Regions from separate parts of the Homo sapiens genome. Here region 2 is linked to region 1. The links come from fine-mapping of genetic effects on gene expression. Tissue or cell type: whole blood. Region 1 holds a variant in brackets; the other region holds the start of a gene. All regions are shown on one strand. Distances are between the middles of the regions.

What was found. PIP is the estimated chance that this variant, and not a neighbour inherited with it, causes the effect.
Region 2: it holds the start of ERGIC1, and the variant in region 1 is fine-mapped to the expression of ERGIC1 in whole blood (TOPMed, PIP above 0.99).

The regions. Positions count from the first base shown.
Region 1 is chr5:172,883,256-172,891,358 of GRCh38, reverse strand. It overlaps ERGIC1 (endoplasmic reticulum-golgi intermediate compartment 1), which reads right to left. Exons shown (of 10, transcript NM_001031711.3): 2 at 2,599-2,660. Among named protein-coding and RNA genes, the nearest start is that of MIR10523, 28 kb to the left of the region's middle. The variant G/T (reference allele first, on the strand shown) is at 3,290.
Region 2 is chr5:172,829,988-172,838,090 of GRCh38, reverse strand. It overlaps ERGIC1 (endoplasmic reticulum-golgi intermediate compartment 1), which reads right to left and starts at 3,840. Exons shown (of 10, transcript NM_001031711.3): 1 at 3,658-3,840. The coding sequence starts at 3,677. It overlaps LOC124901135 (a long non-coding RNA gene), which reads left to right. Exons shown (of 2, transcript XR_007059054.1): 2 at 518-741. RefSeq lists enhancers at 1,110-2,101, 2,398-2,607, 2,102-3,094 and silencers at 3,078-3,157, 3,168-3,217, 3,588-3,987.

The DNA of each region.
Region 1 (8,103 bases):
GAAGAGGGAAGAGGATGGAGCCACTGGTGGACGGTAGGAATGGGGCAGGAAGCCTCATTTGATTTTTTTGGATCAGGTTCATAAACTACCAAGGCTCTTTCCTCTCATGGTCCCCTCCATATCCTTTCCTCGGGAGTCAAGGCACAAAGCTGCACAGCTTCTCAGGCCACAGGCCCTCATGTGTTGCAGGCTCCGGGAGGACAGTGAGAAGAAAAGGAGAGTCATCCATGCACTGAGGGGTTAGTACGTGCCCTGCACAAGACACATCCCGGGACACATTTAATCCCCAGATCAGGAAACTGAGGCTCAGAGAGGGGAGTGACTTGCTCAGTCACACTGCTGCTAAATGGGAGGATGAACCTTGCTCTGCCCGAACACAGAGCCTGTGTGACATGCATCCTGCCACGGGGCTGTGCTGTCCCTTCCTCAGGGCTCTCAAAGGCATCTTGCAGCTTCAACAAGCCCAGCCGGATCCCCAAGGTCCTCCCCCAACTGAGAATGGCCTGACCTGGGAGAAGTGGACTCCAATATGACCGACTGCCCGGCCCAGGACCCTGCTCAGGCAGCAGGGCTGGGACCATCAGGGGGGCAGTTCCCTCTCCCACACCAGGCACTAGGGGGGCTTGTGGGGTGCAAGGAGGCCCACCTGAGTATGAGTCGTGGCTCCATCTTCTGTGAGCTGTGAAATTTCAGCTCACCTCTCTCAGCTCATTTTCTCATTGGGAAAATGAGGCGAAAGCATCCCCTGTTTGCAAGGTGGCTTTGGTTTGTTTTTAAAACTTTTTACTGTAGAATAATCATAGATGCAAAGGTAGTACAGACAGTTCCCATACGCCCTTCACTGGGCTTCCCGTTATGTTAGCATCTTACATTTGTCAAAATGAAGAATTGAACATTAGTACAGTACCATGAACTTGGCTACGGACTTTATTTGGGCTTCACCAGTTTTCCCACAAACTCCAGATTTCTGTTCCAGGAACTGATCTGGGAGTCCACTTTGCATTTTCATCCTGGGTCCTTAGTCTCTTATCAGTGACAGTTCCTCGGTCTTTTGTGTTTTTCAAGGCCTTGCCATGTTTGAAGAGTACTGGCCAAGTATCCTATAGAATGTCCCCTGACCTGGGATTGTGAGTTTTCCTATGATTAGACTGAACTGTGGTTTTTTGGTACGATCCCATGGAGGCAAGATGCCTCCATGCATCCTATCAGGGGCTCACGATATGCACGTGGCTTATCACTGGTCATGCCAACCTTTCTCACTTGGTTCCTCACTGGCACTTGCCATATTTCCTCAGTAAAGGCCTTATTTTTCCTTCCCATTCTCTATTCTTTGAAATAGAGTTACTAAGTCCACACTCAAGAGAGGGGAATTAAACTCCACCACCTGGATGGGAGAATAGCTACATACACGTTGAGTATCCCAAATCTGAAAACCCAAAATCCTAAGTGCTCCAAAATTTGAAACGTTTTCAGTGCCAACATGTTGCTCAAAGGAAATGCTCACTGAAGCATTTTGGATTTCAGGTTTTTGGATGTGGGATGCTCAACTGATAAGTATAATGCAAATATTCTAAAATCTGATATCCAAAATCTGAGACACTTGTCCTAAGCATTTTGGATAAGAGATACTCAGCCTGTATATTATTTGGAATTCTTCTGAATGGATTTGTCTCTTCTCCCCCATTTATTGATATCAATTAGGACCCACAGAACTCTTTCTTAATTCTCTGGCTTCTAAGCCAATAATGTCATTATTTATTTTATTACTCAAACTGCTGCAGGCTGACTTTCAAGTTGGCTCCTAGGTCCTGCTGACACCAGGCACTCCAGGCTCCTCTATCTTTACCCTGCCTAGCCCTGAAATCAGCCATTTCTCCAAGGAGCCATGGTTCCTTTTATTGAAGAATGGTCTTTAGAACCCAAAGTCTGGATGAGATTGTGATTTTTTTTTTTAATGGATAAAAACATGCTTTGGTGGAAAACTCAAATCATTTTTAAGGTATAAAGAGAAAAGTAAATCTCCTTCCTACCCCTGGGCCCAATTCCTCTCCCAGGGGCAGCTACTGTTTTTTTTTAGATGGAGTCTCGCTCTTGTTGCCCAGGCTGAAGTGCAATGGTGTGATCTCGGCTCACTGCAACCTCCACCTCCCTGTTTCAAGCGATTCTCCTGCCTCAGCCTCCCGAGTAGATGGGACTACAGGCATGTACCACCATGCCTGGCTAATTTTGTATTTTTAATAGAGACGGGGTTTCAGCATGTTGGTCAGCCTGGTCTCGAACTCCTGATGTCAATTGATCCACCCGCCTTGGCCTCCCAAAGTGTTGGGATTACAGGCGTGAGCCACCGCGCCCAGCCTGGCAGCTACTCTTGACAATTTCTTTCATGTCCTTCCAGATGGTGCCTGTGCCTTGAGGGGTTACAGTGAGGATAGAGAGTAAGTGAGGAAATGCTTGAAGGGCCCCCGCAAGATGCTCAGCATTTCTTTCCTCCCTCCTGTCTTTCCTTCTTTCCTCCCTGGCCCAGATGATCTGCACAGAGAGAGCAGGCACAGGCAGTGGAGATGGGGCAGAGGGCATGGCCAGAGGTTGGCTACTCACTAATGGCCCCGGTGTACGTTGGCTGCGTAAGGTCCTTGGGCACCTTCCTGTAGATGTCAAACCTGTGGAGAGCAAATGGAACAGGAGTGAGGTGGGCACAAAGGGTGGGTCTCAAGGCAGCAGGCAGTGGTGCTGGCTTGTGTGACACATGGTTCAACAAACCATGGTTCTTCCCACAGTTTTTCTGCTCTTTCAGGACACTTTCTCCAAGATGCTTCTCTGATGGAACCCCTGCTCCCCACAACACCCTTAGATCACATCCCCTTGTCATCTCTTCTTCATAACATTTCTTTTTTTTTTTTAAACAGGGTCTCGCTCTGTCACCCAGGCTGGAGTGCAGTTGTGCAATCTTGGCTCACTGCAACCTCTGCCTCCCAGGTTCAAGTGAGTCTCGTGTCTCAGCCTCCCAAGTAGCTGGGACTACGGGCATGTGCCACCATGCCTGGCTAATTTTTGTATTTTTGGTAGAGACGGGGTTTTGCCATGTTGCCCAGGCTGGTCTCGAACTCCTAAGCTCAACCGATCTGCCCACCTTGGCCTCCCAAAGTGCTGGGATTACAGGCGTGAACCACCAGATGACCCTCCCACTCATCGGTGGGTCTTCCATCAGAGTGTAACTTCTGCGAGAGCAGGGGCCTAGTTAGGTTTTGTTCCCTGCCACGTTCCCAAACCCTAGCATGGGCCTGGTGCA[G/T]AGTAGGCACTGGATAATTATGGAATGTATGGAACCCCTGAATCGGGGGTGACTCTGACGCTAGAGGAAGCAAGGAAACGCACAGCCCTGCTCGAGTTATGTGACGATGCTGCATTCTTGCTCCACGTCACCTCTCCTCCCCCTCTTCCCTTTCCTGCCTCCTCCTGTTTCCACTCCGGCTGCACCCCCCAGCTCCTGCTGTCTGCCTCATGGAGACTCTTCTTAAGAATGCTAAGGCATGAGGTTAACAGAAAGTCCTGCCAGGAGCCCACGGTCTTAGCATCAGCTGGTGATGGCTCTGGTTCCTGTCTTGTGTGATTTCTTTCCCTCACAGAAGCAGACAGATGTCTTTCTTTCCTATGGATCCCACCAGAGCACAGGGAAATCGTGTGGTGTAGTGGGAGAATTCAGGGTTTTGGAAATCAGACAGACACAGGTTTAATTCTGGCTCTGCTTCAGCTATTTAAGAGTTAAGACCCTGGAATCAGACTACCCTGGTTCAAATCTCGGCTGGTCCTCTCGTTCACCATGTGACCTTCAGCAAACGACTTCACCTCTCGGAGCCTGTTTCCTCCTTTGTAAAAATGGGACCATTAGTACTAGACCCTGTGAGGCCACGGAAAGGAGTGAGGGAAAGAAGTGTCTGTAAAGGATGTGACGCAGAGAGCTCGCAGGGGAGGCTCCCCACACACTTGGCTTCGTTTCCTTCACTTGAACCTGCGTAGCAGACAGTTCTCCCACAGCAGAGTTTGATCGACAGAACCCTCCTTAGTCCACACGGCATCCCAGCTCTCAGACAGAACTTGACTTGCTGGAGAGGCCGGCGGCTCCAGCCCTTGGGGGTGACAGGCTGGTGTGCGGTTCCTCTTTGGTGATTGGGAAACAAGAGTATGCCCAGCTAAACCCGACGCAATGCCTTGGAAACCTTGCGTAAGGGCCGATGCTTGAATCAGTGTGCTCACCCTAATTACACGTGAAACATGCTCAGTTTCCTAAGACCTCAGGGGAGAAAAATTCCTGCGGGCTGCCAAGTTCAAAGGTACCACTTTCTCTGCCGCCTGCTTAGCTCCCAGTCACCTGTGCTTGTGCCCCTGAGGGTACTAGAAGCTGGGGCTGGGGTGTGGTCGGGAGGTTGGGGGTCTCTGCAACTCACCTGTCCATATTTACTCATATCCCTTAGTCAGAAAGTGGGGGCCGCTTTAACACTGAGAGGTGTGTGAGAGGTAAGAGCATGTGCTGTGGAATCAGATGCCTGGGCTCAACTATGACCACTACTGTACCACCCTGGGACCGTCACTTAACCTCTCTGTGCCTCAGTTTCTTTGTCTATAAAGTGGGGGCAACAACAGTAACTATCTCACAGCATGGTGGTGAGGCTCAAATGACTGAGCACATATAAAGTACTTAGGCAGAGCCTGGCACCCCAGAAATGCCACGTGGATATTTGTGGTTACTATTATTATTAACGCTTGTTTGACAAACATTTACGCAGTGCCTACTAACACACCCCCTCTTTTAGGCCCTTAGGCAAGGAGATAAAAATCAACCCTTGGCCCAGTGAGTTTGTAGTTTAGCGGTAGAGGCAAAGAAAGGGAAGGAGAAGGTAGTGGCATCCTCATCACGAGGTGCTGGATTAACTCAGGAGGGGGTACCTGACTTGGCCTGGGGTCCTCGGTGAAGCTTCCTACAGGGGGTGATGTGTGCACAGAGCAGGAGGGGGAGAAGATGGATGGGTGGAGGGAAAGAGCAGCCCAGGCAAGGAGAGGAGCAGAAGCAAAGACAGAGTAGGACCGAATCTGGGAAGCTGGGCGCTGTCCTCTCTCCGGCACAGGGTACAGCCCGATGTGCAGGGAGAGGAGGACGGAAAACTGGGGCGGGGCTGGAGGAGAGGGTCCTGAGGGCCAGGCTGTGGCTAGGGAGTCTCACACCAAGTGTCGATGGGGGCCGGCGGGCGGTCTACTGTGGGAGACTGTGAGAGGTCAGCAAATTTGGGAGGTAGGGGTGGGGAGAGGGAATGGAGAGAAAACAAACCAGCAGGCGGCCATCACCGAGCCCCAGCTGACACCTGCCAGGTAGAGATGCGGGCTCAGGAGGCCAGACCTTCTGAGTGTCCAAGAGAAGCCAAAAATGTGGAATTTTACATGGAAGTTCACCATTCTCAAATGCTGGGCCAACACTCTACAGGACAAATGAGACGCGTCTGCAGATGACATGAGGCCTGGGGCCTAGGCGGTGACCATTTGAGCGGAGAGGCCTTGCGGAGCTGGAAGAGGATGTGGTCCGCCTCGTGTCATAGGAAGGCCAGCCTGGGCCAGTGGGGAGGGCATGTGGGTTCTCCTAAGACTGGAGAAATGAGCAGCAGGAAAGGGCTGCAGCGGGAGGGGTCTCGTCCTCACTCCACCCCAACTTCGTGTTAGACCTTCAGAAAATCCCTGGCCCTTGCTGGGCCTCAGCTTCTCTGAGTATGAAATGAGGGGGTGCACAGGGGATCTAAAAGTTCCCATGCAGATTAAAGCATGACAGCCGTGTCCTGGGGCTCGATACCCCAGGTGGCTAACAGCCCAGCTTTTGTCCAGGTCACCATCAGGGACCGACAAGCAGAAACTGGGCCTCGCAGTTTAAAAAAATACAGAAACTGCTGTACACGATGGCTCTTGCCTGTAATCCCAGCACTTTGGGAGGCTGAGGTGGGAGGACTGCTTGAGAATAGGAGTTTGCGACCAGCCTGGGCAGCATAGAGAGACCTCATCTCCACAAAAAAAAATGAACAAAATTAGCTGGGCATGGTGGTGTGCGCCTGTAGTCCCAGCTAGTCAGGAGGCTGAGGTGGGAGGATCACTTGAGCCTGGGAGGTTGAGGCTGCAGTGAGCTAAGATGGTGCCAATGTACTCCAGCCTGGGTCACACAGTGAGACCCTATCTCAAAAATATACATAAAATAAAAATTAAAAAATAAAAAATATAAGAACCATTGTTTCAAAACTGGAAGTCAGAGGCTGCTCTGGGTGAGGAGGCAGCAGTGGCTCGGGGCAGAGTGTCTAAGTTCAGTCAGGGTGAGGAAGAGAGAGATAGGAGATTGTTACATACAGAGAGACTGGTCAAACATGTACATGTACAAGGATAGTGGGGCCAGGTGCCTCACTGTCAGGGAAGGGAGGTGAAAACATGGTATTATAGTGGTAATGGAAATATCAGTATGAATTAATCATTTTCAATATACCCAAACACTGAAATATGCACATGTATATATACGTATCATATATACATACATTTCCTAGCTCTTTCCATAGAGAAGATCCAGCAACAGCAACAGCCCAATAGCAGTGAGTGTAACGAGCACCCAAACCTTGGCTTCTAATCACTATTCTCTACTTAAAGCAGTCAGAGCTCCTTGGAATGGCTGATTCTAGGCTGGGCAGGAAAAATACAAGATGGGCCTGGAGCACCTTCTTATGTCAGAAACCAAGAAAGTGTTCAAAGAATGAAAAGGACATGTCAAAAGGACAAGAAGAGGCCAGACACAGTCAGTGGCTCATGCTTGTAATTCCAGCAGTTTGGGAGGCCCAGGTGGGGGGATCGCTTGAGGCCAGGAGTTCAAGAAAAGCCTGGGCAACATAACAAGACCTCATCTCTACAAACAACAACAACAAAAAACAACAACAAAAGTTGGGCGTGGTGGTGTGTGCCTATAGTCCTAGCTACTCAAGAGGCTGAGGTGGGAGGATCATTTGAATCCAGGAGTTTAATGCTATGGTGAGCCTTGCACTCCAGCCTGGGCTACAGGGTGAGGCCCTGTCTTTAAAAAAAAAAAAAAAAAAAAAAAAAACTTGGGGTTCCCACTGGCCGAAGAATAGACAATGTGAGCATCAAAATAAATAACAATCATCACAGATTATAAGCCATTGGATAAAACAGAAAGGATAAAACATACATAGAAATAAAGAAATGAACAAATCAAAACTTTGATAAAGACAGGATATTGACATACCTTCAAAGCACTTCCCCCAGAAAACGCTTATTAATTACAAAATGGAAAGAGTAACTGTGCAGTGGAGAAATTTGGCAGACATCGTCTTTTTGATGGGGGCTGGAGGGACAGGGTCTCACTGTGACCCAGGCTGGAGTGCAGTGATGTGATGACTCACTGCAGCCTCAACCTCCCAAGGCTCAGGCGATCCTCCCACCTCAGCCTCCCGAGTAGCTGGGACTACAGGGATGCACCATCATGCCTGGCTAATTTTTTAATTTTTTTGTAGGGATGGGGTTTTGCCATGTTGCCCAGGCTGGTCTTCAACTACAGGGCTCAAGCGATCTGCCCGCCTCGGCCTCCCAAAGTATTGGGATTACAGGCATGAGCCACTGTGCCTGGCCCAGGCATCATCTTAACCAGGTGAAGACAGTGGGCACCGGAAGCATGGAGACACATCGGCACCCTGTGCCTCCTGATATGCCGCACTGAGGAGGGCACAGCACCACTTCTGGGGGATCCTGCCTAAAAGGTACAGCTTCAATCTAACAATGAGAGAACATCAAACAAATCCAAAGTGAGGGGCAGTCTACAAAAAAACAAAACAAAACAAAACAAAAACTGGCTGGCATTTGTCAAGAGCACTCAGGTCATAAAGCACAAGAAAAGATGGGGAAACTGTCACAGATTGAAGGAGACTAAAGAGACATGACAACTAAATCCAATGAGATCCTGGATCAGAAAAAGGCCATCAGGGGACACCTGAAGAAAGTTGAGTACGATCTGCAGATTGGCCGGCAGCACTGTCTAATGGATTTTCCTGCTCTTAATCATGGTATTGTGATTAT
Region 2 (8,103 bases), 53 kb after region 1:
AGTCAATGGTCCCAGAGCACATCTGGTCAGTGCCAGTGCAGCGGCACCCCCGAGGCCTTGGGTTTTCAACATGGGGGCTGTCACTGTGGGACAGCAGCCACCTGCACCTCCCGGAAGGCAGTGCTCAGGCACCACTGGGCCTGGGCACAGGGCTTCCGGATGCTGTTATCTTCCCTCCTCACCCACCCTGGGCTGGTGTGCAGAAGGCAGCAGGTGCTACTGGCCCCAGGCCAGCCGGAACTCGAAACAACACACACGGATGTGGGTCACAAGGCTAGTTCCACAACTGCAACAGCCAGCCATTAGTGAAACAATTTAACAAGAGCAAAGCAAACACAATAAATCATTGAAAGCTCAGCCTCCCTCCCCTGCGTTCTGCCTCCTTCCTTAACCCCAAAAACAACCTAGGAACGGCAGATTCAAGGGTGGAGAGGGGAGATTTCTCCACTAATGGCTGAAAATCTGCCCACTGAAGCTGGCATATCAAGTCACGTCATGTCTATGGCTTCCTTGACAGATTTCAAGAGGCATCTCCAAGGATCGAGTTTGGCTCAAGCACAGTTCTAGGTGCTGGAGATGCAACCTTGAAGAAGCCTGATAAAAACTTCTTGCCCTCAGGAGCTCATGTACTAATGGGAGGGAGAGAGAAGCAGCATGATAATTAAGTGAATTATATAATGTGTTAGGAGATGATGGGTGCTTAAATAAAATGACACAAATAAATATGGCGGCCAAAATGGATGAGGCGCTTACTCTGTGTCTAAATGCTTTCCGCACTGCCTCATCCCTCAACTGTTCTACTTCGGTGAGTACTCTCCTCATTCCCATTTCACAGACAGGAAAACACAGAACTCAGTTGCACCAGGCTCTACAGGCAGTAAGAAAATCAGAAGTATCCGTAGGGAAGGGCAAGAGTGCACTATTTTTCCTGCTTCTGATTTTAAGAAGGGGAACACGAGCAGGACGGCTGGTTTTCTCCCTGGCCTTGAACTGGGGGAGGAGGTCTAATCACGGTATACCCCTCTCCACTCCCCACAATTCTTAAAAGAGCTGACAGGATGGTGGGCCCCTCCAATCTCTCCCTTTTCTCCCAGATCTAAGGCTTTGGAGCTAACAGCCCCAAGTTCAAATCCCAGATCCACCAGCTCATGCACTGCATGGCCAGAGCAAAGGGCTTCTACTCAGTGGAGCTCCCCTCTCCTTTGATTTAAAATGAAGATTAAAACTCCCTCTCTCAGGTGACAAGGGAATCGATGTCTGCACCCCAAAGTGTGTATACAGTGGTAGATGCTCCTTGCGTGCCAGTTCACGCACACCCCCACTCCTGGGACCCCATAAGCCCTCCTCCCTTCTCTTGGAATGCAAAGAGAGCCGGACCACATGCCACCCACCTCCTCACGGTGGGGCCTGTGGCAGAGGGCTGAGCATGGACTGGACACTTGATGAATGCTTGATGAATGCACACTGAAGCGGAGGAAGGTGCATGGGGATGGTCGAACCCTCAGTAGAACCCAGGTCCTGGAGCCTTGAAGTTCACAGAGCTTAAAGAGTGCAGGTTTGCTGGGCACACATGGCTCATCCTCCAAGGTGCAAACGTGAAGCACTGAATCCATTCTCACCATTCCGCAGTGAGCCCAAGCCCTGAGAGTATTTCCTAGTTAAGCTGGGCCCCCTGACACCTGGGCACTCAGGGACCTGAAGTATGCCAAGGGAGCCCCAGACTAGCCAGCTTCTCAGAGCTGAGCATTTCTCTCTTTAAATATCAATGCCTGACACAGGGCCCTTCCAAGGCCAAAGGCTAGAGCTGGCCTTACCCATTTTCCTTACTTCCCTTACCTGCCCCCACAAGCCACCAATTCAAGGAGCACAAGGTTGGGAGCCATGTGTGACCTGAGACCTAAGTCTACCCTTCCCATTTAGCACCCATAAAGTCCAAGATAAGGCCCTCATCCCTGGAGCCTCATTTCCTCCTTGGTAAGACGGAAGGGTGAGGTGCAGGGAGAAAGGATTAAAAGATCAAAAACAGCAATTTCCCCAGCAAGCTCAAAATCACCGGAACCTACTGAATCACACAGGGGCAGGGGGCGGCGGTGGCACGAATCCCTATGGTTGGCCTGGGTAAGGGGAGGCTTTGTGGAACCAGAAATTGATGTGCCGACCACAGCTCTTATGGCCCAGACTTAACTGATGCTATTAGGACTGACCTTGAATTCCACCAGAGGGGCTGTCCTTGTTCAAAACTGCCTAGGTCTGCTAGCCTCAGGGCTGCCCGGCAGGGGCAAGAAGCCGGCAAACATTTGCTAGCTGGTATCAGGGACCCGGACAGGCTGGAAAACCATGTCAACCAATCAAGAGGTCCAAGACCAGTGTCCTCTTTGGGCCTAAACCCCAATATATCCCATGCTATGGGGGTCATGGCAGGCTAAGGGCCTTTCTCTCTGGGTAGACTGTCACTTTACACTGCCTTCACATGCAAGAAGAGGGGAAGAAATACCTCCTGTGGCACAGGCATCTGAATCACTATTTTGTGGATGTGGAAAACCCCTCCTGGAGAACACCCCCCATCCACTAATGCCCTATTTCTGAGCTCTAAATCATGCCAGACTCTGCTAAGGGTGTTTCACGCACTCAGTCGTCACAAGCGGAGACCTTATTTTTAGCCCCAATTTGCAGGTGGTGAAACTGAGGGCGCTCGGAGACTTGCTGAGGTCAGCCAGCCGAGCGGCGACAGGGAGTTCTGAACCCAGAGCCTTTGCCCCTAACTTCTAGAATATACCGAGCTGTTCAGTAGAAAGGGCAGAGCCAGGATTCTAATCCAGCTCCTCCCTGCATTAAAGCCCTGCTCTTTTCCCAGCCAGACACCAAGTGTGGCTGCCTCAGGCCAGGACATCCCCTGGGGCTCCACACCTCAAGGGAACCTCTGGTGGAGATCTCTTCCCCCGCAGGCTTCCAGAATGCCCCATGCAACCTAGACCATGAGGCAGCTGGACCCCACAAAGGACCCATTGTGGTGACTGCAGAAAGCCAAGGCCAGACCCCGGTGGCCCTTCTGCAGAGTCCTGCCCAAGGCGCCTCCTCCCCTTCCCATGGTGCCCCCATACCCAGCGGACAGGGCTGGGGCTGAGGGAGGGAGGGGCGGGGGCAGGCCTCCCGATCTGCCCGGCCTGGGGGAGCCTCAGGCTATAGAAACTTAAAACCCTCCAGCTGCCGGCAGGCTGCATGGGGCCCCAGGCCCCTCCGGACTCATTCCAGGTGCCCTGCCCCACCTGTCAGCTGAGGTGGGGTCCACCAAGGAGGCTCAGTAGAGGGAGGAGAGGGATGCTGGGGTGTTATGGGCTGTTCCCATCTGGGAGGAGGGAGGAAATGTTTCCTAGTGTGGGGGAGGGGAATGCAAGGTATCCGGGCAGGCTGGGGAGGGGGCTCGGCGGAGGGAAGGTGGGTGGATTTGTCTCCCGCTGCACGAGGGGGCCTCCGCGGCTCTGGCTGGCTTCGTGTGCGGCAGGGGGGGGGCTCGCCTGGGGTCCCTAGGGGCCTGCGGAGGCATGCACAGGGCGGGGAGCCGCTTTTGCATGCAGGGCGGGAGGGGTCCGCGGCGTGCCGGGGCGCTCCCTCTGCCCGCTGAGGGAACTCCCGACTGGCCGGGGTCGCCACACTCACCTCCTGAAGTCAAAGGGCATCGTGCCGCCGCCGGGGGTGGGAGCGCTGCAGGCCAGGCGGGCCGCGGCGCCGCGTGGGTCCGAGCCCGCTGCCAACGCCTCCTCCGGCCGCCCCGCCCCCGCCGGCCGCCCCCCTGACACTCGCCACTCGCCACTCGCCACTCGCCTCCCGCTGCCGGGAAGTGACGCTCCGCGCAGCCCATTGGGCGCCGCCCGCCCGGCCGCCCCTTCCGCCACCCGGTTAAAGGGGCCCGCGGGCAGGCAGGGAAGGGGCGGAGAGTCGAGGCTGTCGGAAGGGAAGGGAGTCCCCCAAAGACTCCAGTACTCATTCCTTCAAGCCTCCCACTTAGATTTCCTTCTCCATCTCTTTGGATGCCCTCGGACAAATTCTCTGCTTCTCCGAGCCCAGTTTTTTGCATTTGTAAACAGTTTCACTGAACTGTGATTGAGTTGGGGGCGGGGGGCGGGGTGATACAGACTTTGGCCGTGCACAGCGTCTAGCTCTGAGTGAGGGCCTAATACTGTGGGGGAAGGGAAGAGGTCGGCCATCCTAGGCTGTTAAGGTGGACTCACCTCTGCCCCTGCCGTGTCTCTCTGGGAAAGCCACTGGGCTTCTCAGAGCGCCCCCCCCCCGCCCCGCCCCTTTTGCATATCTGCACAAAGAGGACGATGACACCTACTTGAGGGGGTTTTCCTGGGGATCAGCTGAGAAACAGGAGACTGGCTTAGCACAGTGCCAGGCACCTGAAACTATTGAGGCTGGCAGTGGCTGTCCCTGCTTCCATCTGCCCCTGTCGTTCACTCCAGTGGGCATTCACAGAGCATCTGCTCTGAACCAGGTCCATCGAGAACATGCAGGGTTGTGGCAGAGGCAGATGGGACCTGCACTGTGACTTGGCCAACGTGGACTGTGCCGATTGTCTCCTTCTTAGAGCCTCAGTTTCCTCCTCAGGAATACAGAGCAGCTGCCTCCGTGACTGCTGGATTAGAGGAGATGGTAGTTGAGGTCACACAAGACCTGAGTAGGGGAAACTCACTCTGAACTTCCCCGAGGTTCTGTCACTGGCCCTTTCTCCAAGGTTGTGGTGGGACAGGGCTTCAAAAAACCCAGGGGAGAATGGTGAGGGCTCGGGTTCCAAAAGCAGAGTCAATGGACAGTTTCCCCCTGTGTAAATAGAGGGGAACAGCAGTGCTGGTTCCTCCGGGAGGATTCAGAAGGGACAACACTAGCACGGGGTCTGGGGTAGGGTGACGTGGTGAACCAAAGCCTTCCCCTAGAGCATATGCCGGGACCTGACCTCTGCGTTCCCTTTTCATTCATTCACTCATTCATTCATTCATTCATTCAGTGTCAGTGGTCTGACACTGTTGGGGGAGAAAAGGAAATCTCAGCCTGAACTGGAAACCTAGGGACAGCAGGGAGAGTTAAGGGATCTTGAGCAGCCACTGCTTCCAAACAGCCATTCGTTGGCCCTGTGTGGGAGGAAACATGCAATGATGGATCTTTGACCTCGAATCCTCCCTCCTCAAACTGTGGTCCACAGACCAGCCACATGGCCATCACAGGACAGACTCTTGTCCCCAGGCCAGACCTACTGAATCAAGTGTGCATTTGGGATGATATCCAAGGTCAGCAAATGCCTGGCACAGAGTAAATGCAAGACAGGGTTGACTATCATTGCTCTTTTCGAGTGGGGATAGAGCTCCCAACTTTTGGCTGGGCATGTGGGTGCTCACAGTGAAAGTTGCATTTCCCCAGCTTCCTTTGTAGCTAGATGTGGCATTGAGAAGTAAAGGGAAGTGTCTTGTGGGGCATCTGGGATAGTTGGTATGTCTGCTTTACCCTCTGTGTCCCTTTCTCCATCTGGCTGCCAGGAATGTAGGCGTCACCATCCTGGACCATAAGGTGGAGGCCACCACAGAGCAGAGCAACAAGACAAAAAGAGCCTAAGTTCCTGCCGGGCACAGTGGCTCACACCTGTAATTGCAGCACTTTGGGAGGCCGAGGTGGGCGGATCACCTGAGGTCAGGAGTTCGAGACCAGCCTGACCAACATGTGGTGAAACCCTGTCTCTACTAAAAATACAAAAATTAGCCGGGCGTGGTGCCACACGCCTGTAATCCCAGCTACTCAGGAGGCTGAGGCAGGAGAATCGCCTGAACCTGGGAGGCAGAGGTTGCAGTGAGCCCAGATCACACCACTGCCCTCCAGCCTGTGCGACAGAGTGAGACTCTGTCTCAAAAAAAAAAAAAAAAAACCTGAGTTCCTGTCTCTAAGTGGCAAAATACCTGTCCTCAAACACCTGCCCAAGAGAAACAAACATCTATCTTATTTAAGCTATTGTTATTCTGTATTTTCAGACACTTACACCTAAACCCAATGCTGATACACCTATGCAGCCTGGCTAGCTACTTGACTGCCCCAATGCTCATGGACTAGGCCAGTCCCCTATTACATAATCGCATGGTACCTTGTAGGTTTCCTTGGGAGAACTGGGCATGACGTGTGATTAGGTTATTATTAATTCGCTAGTAACTACTACCCCATCTGAGTGAAAGTTCCCTGAGAGGGGCCTGTCGGGGGGTAGGGGGCTAGGGGAGGGATAGCATTAGGAGAAATACCTAATGTAGATGACGGGTTGATGGGTACACAAACAATGATGCCATACACAAATGGCACGTGTATGCCTGTGTGACAAAACTGCACGTTCTGCACATGTATCCCAGAACCTAAAGTATAATTTAAAAAAAAAAAGGAAAGTTCCCTGAGACAAGGTGGTATCACCATCATATCCTAGCATCCAGCCAGACCCTGCACATGCTGGGGATGCACTAACTATGCGTTGAAGTTTGAATAGAGGCTTCCCAGGGAGGCAGGCCTTCCCACGGAGGCAGGCCTTACCAACAGAACAGCGGATGGGAGGGGAGGTATCAACATGGGCCTCCGCTGTGGGACTGGTGAGGTCTGTGAGCAGACCAGGCTGTCAGTCCCAGATGGTCCATCCACTCAAGAGCCAGTGGGAGATGGAGCTAAGAAAATCAGATTGTGTCTGCAGTACGTGGGAAGGCTCTGGGTCTCTTTGAGCAGGGAACAACAATACAAGTTAAGTTTTCGGATTATCAATCTTGTGGAAGCCTGTGGTAGGTAGCCAGCCTCCAGTGACCCTGATCTCCTGGTATTCCCATGCCCTTCTAGAATCACCTCCCACAATGAATAGGGCTGACCTATCCTGTGTAATCAACAGGATATTGCAGAAACGACAGTTATGACTCCTGTGGCTACGTCACAAAAGACTGAGGCTCTGCTTAGCCACTCTTGAATCACTCGTTCTGAGGGAAGCCAACTGCCTGTCCTAAAGAGGCTCAAGCACGATTATAAAGGGGCCTGGTCGGTGAGGAATGAGGCCTCCCACCAACAGCCATGTGAGTGGGCTCTCTTGGAAGTAGCGGCTCAGCCCCGGTCAGGGCTTCAAAGCTGCATCCCCAGCCCACAGCTTAACCACAGGTTCTTGAGAGACCCTGAGAAACACCCAGCTCAGCTGCTCCCGAATTCCTGATCCATAGAAACTATAAGATAATAAATGTTTGCTTTAAGCCATTAAGTTGTGGGTAATTAGTTACACAGCAGTAGATAAATAACAGAGACTCCATCCTCATTATTTTTTTTTCCTACCAGTAACTTCTCCCTGCCTTCCTCCATCTCACCCCCCGCCAGCCTGGGGAAATAGAAAACCACTTTGGACTCAGATCACTCTCTGCTGGGTGACCTGGACCAGTTGCTTAACTAGCTGGGTGTCTAGGTATGAAATGAAGGATAATAATACCTTACCTGTGGCAGGTAGCCTCTGAAATTGTCCCAATTAACCCACCTCTTGGTATTCATACCCTTGTGTAATTTCCTCCCTTCAAGTGTAGGCTGGACTTATGGACTCATTTCTAATGCACAAAATATGGCAGAAGTGATGAGCATGTTGCTTCTGAGATTAGGTTATCAAGAGATGGTGACTTCTGTCTTGGACACTCTCTTGCTATCTCTTGGATCAGTCACCCTGGATAAGCTGGCTTCTGTGTGTGGCTTCTGTGCCCTAAGGAAAAGCCCCTGTGGGTGAGTTTGCAAGTGATTCTTCTAAGGCAGGGGTGTCCAATCTTTTAGCTTCCCTGGGCCACGCTGGAAGAAGAAAAACTGTCTTAGGGGCCGGGCGTGGTGGCTTACGCCTGTAATCCCAGCACTTTGGGAGGCAGAGGCAGGTGGATCACGAGGTCAGGAGTTTGAGACCAGCCTGACCAACATGCTGAAACCCCGTCTCTACTAAAAACAAAAACAATTAGCTAGGCATGGTGGCGCATGCCTGTAATCCCAGCTACTCAGGAGGCTGAGGCAGGAGAATTGCTTGAACCTGAGAAGCAGAGGTTGCAGTGAGCAGAGATGGAGCCACTGCACTCCAGC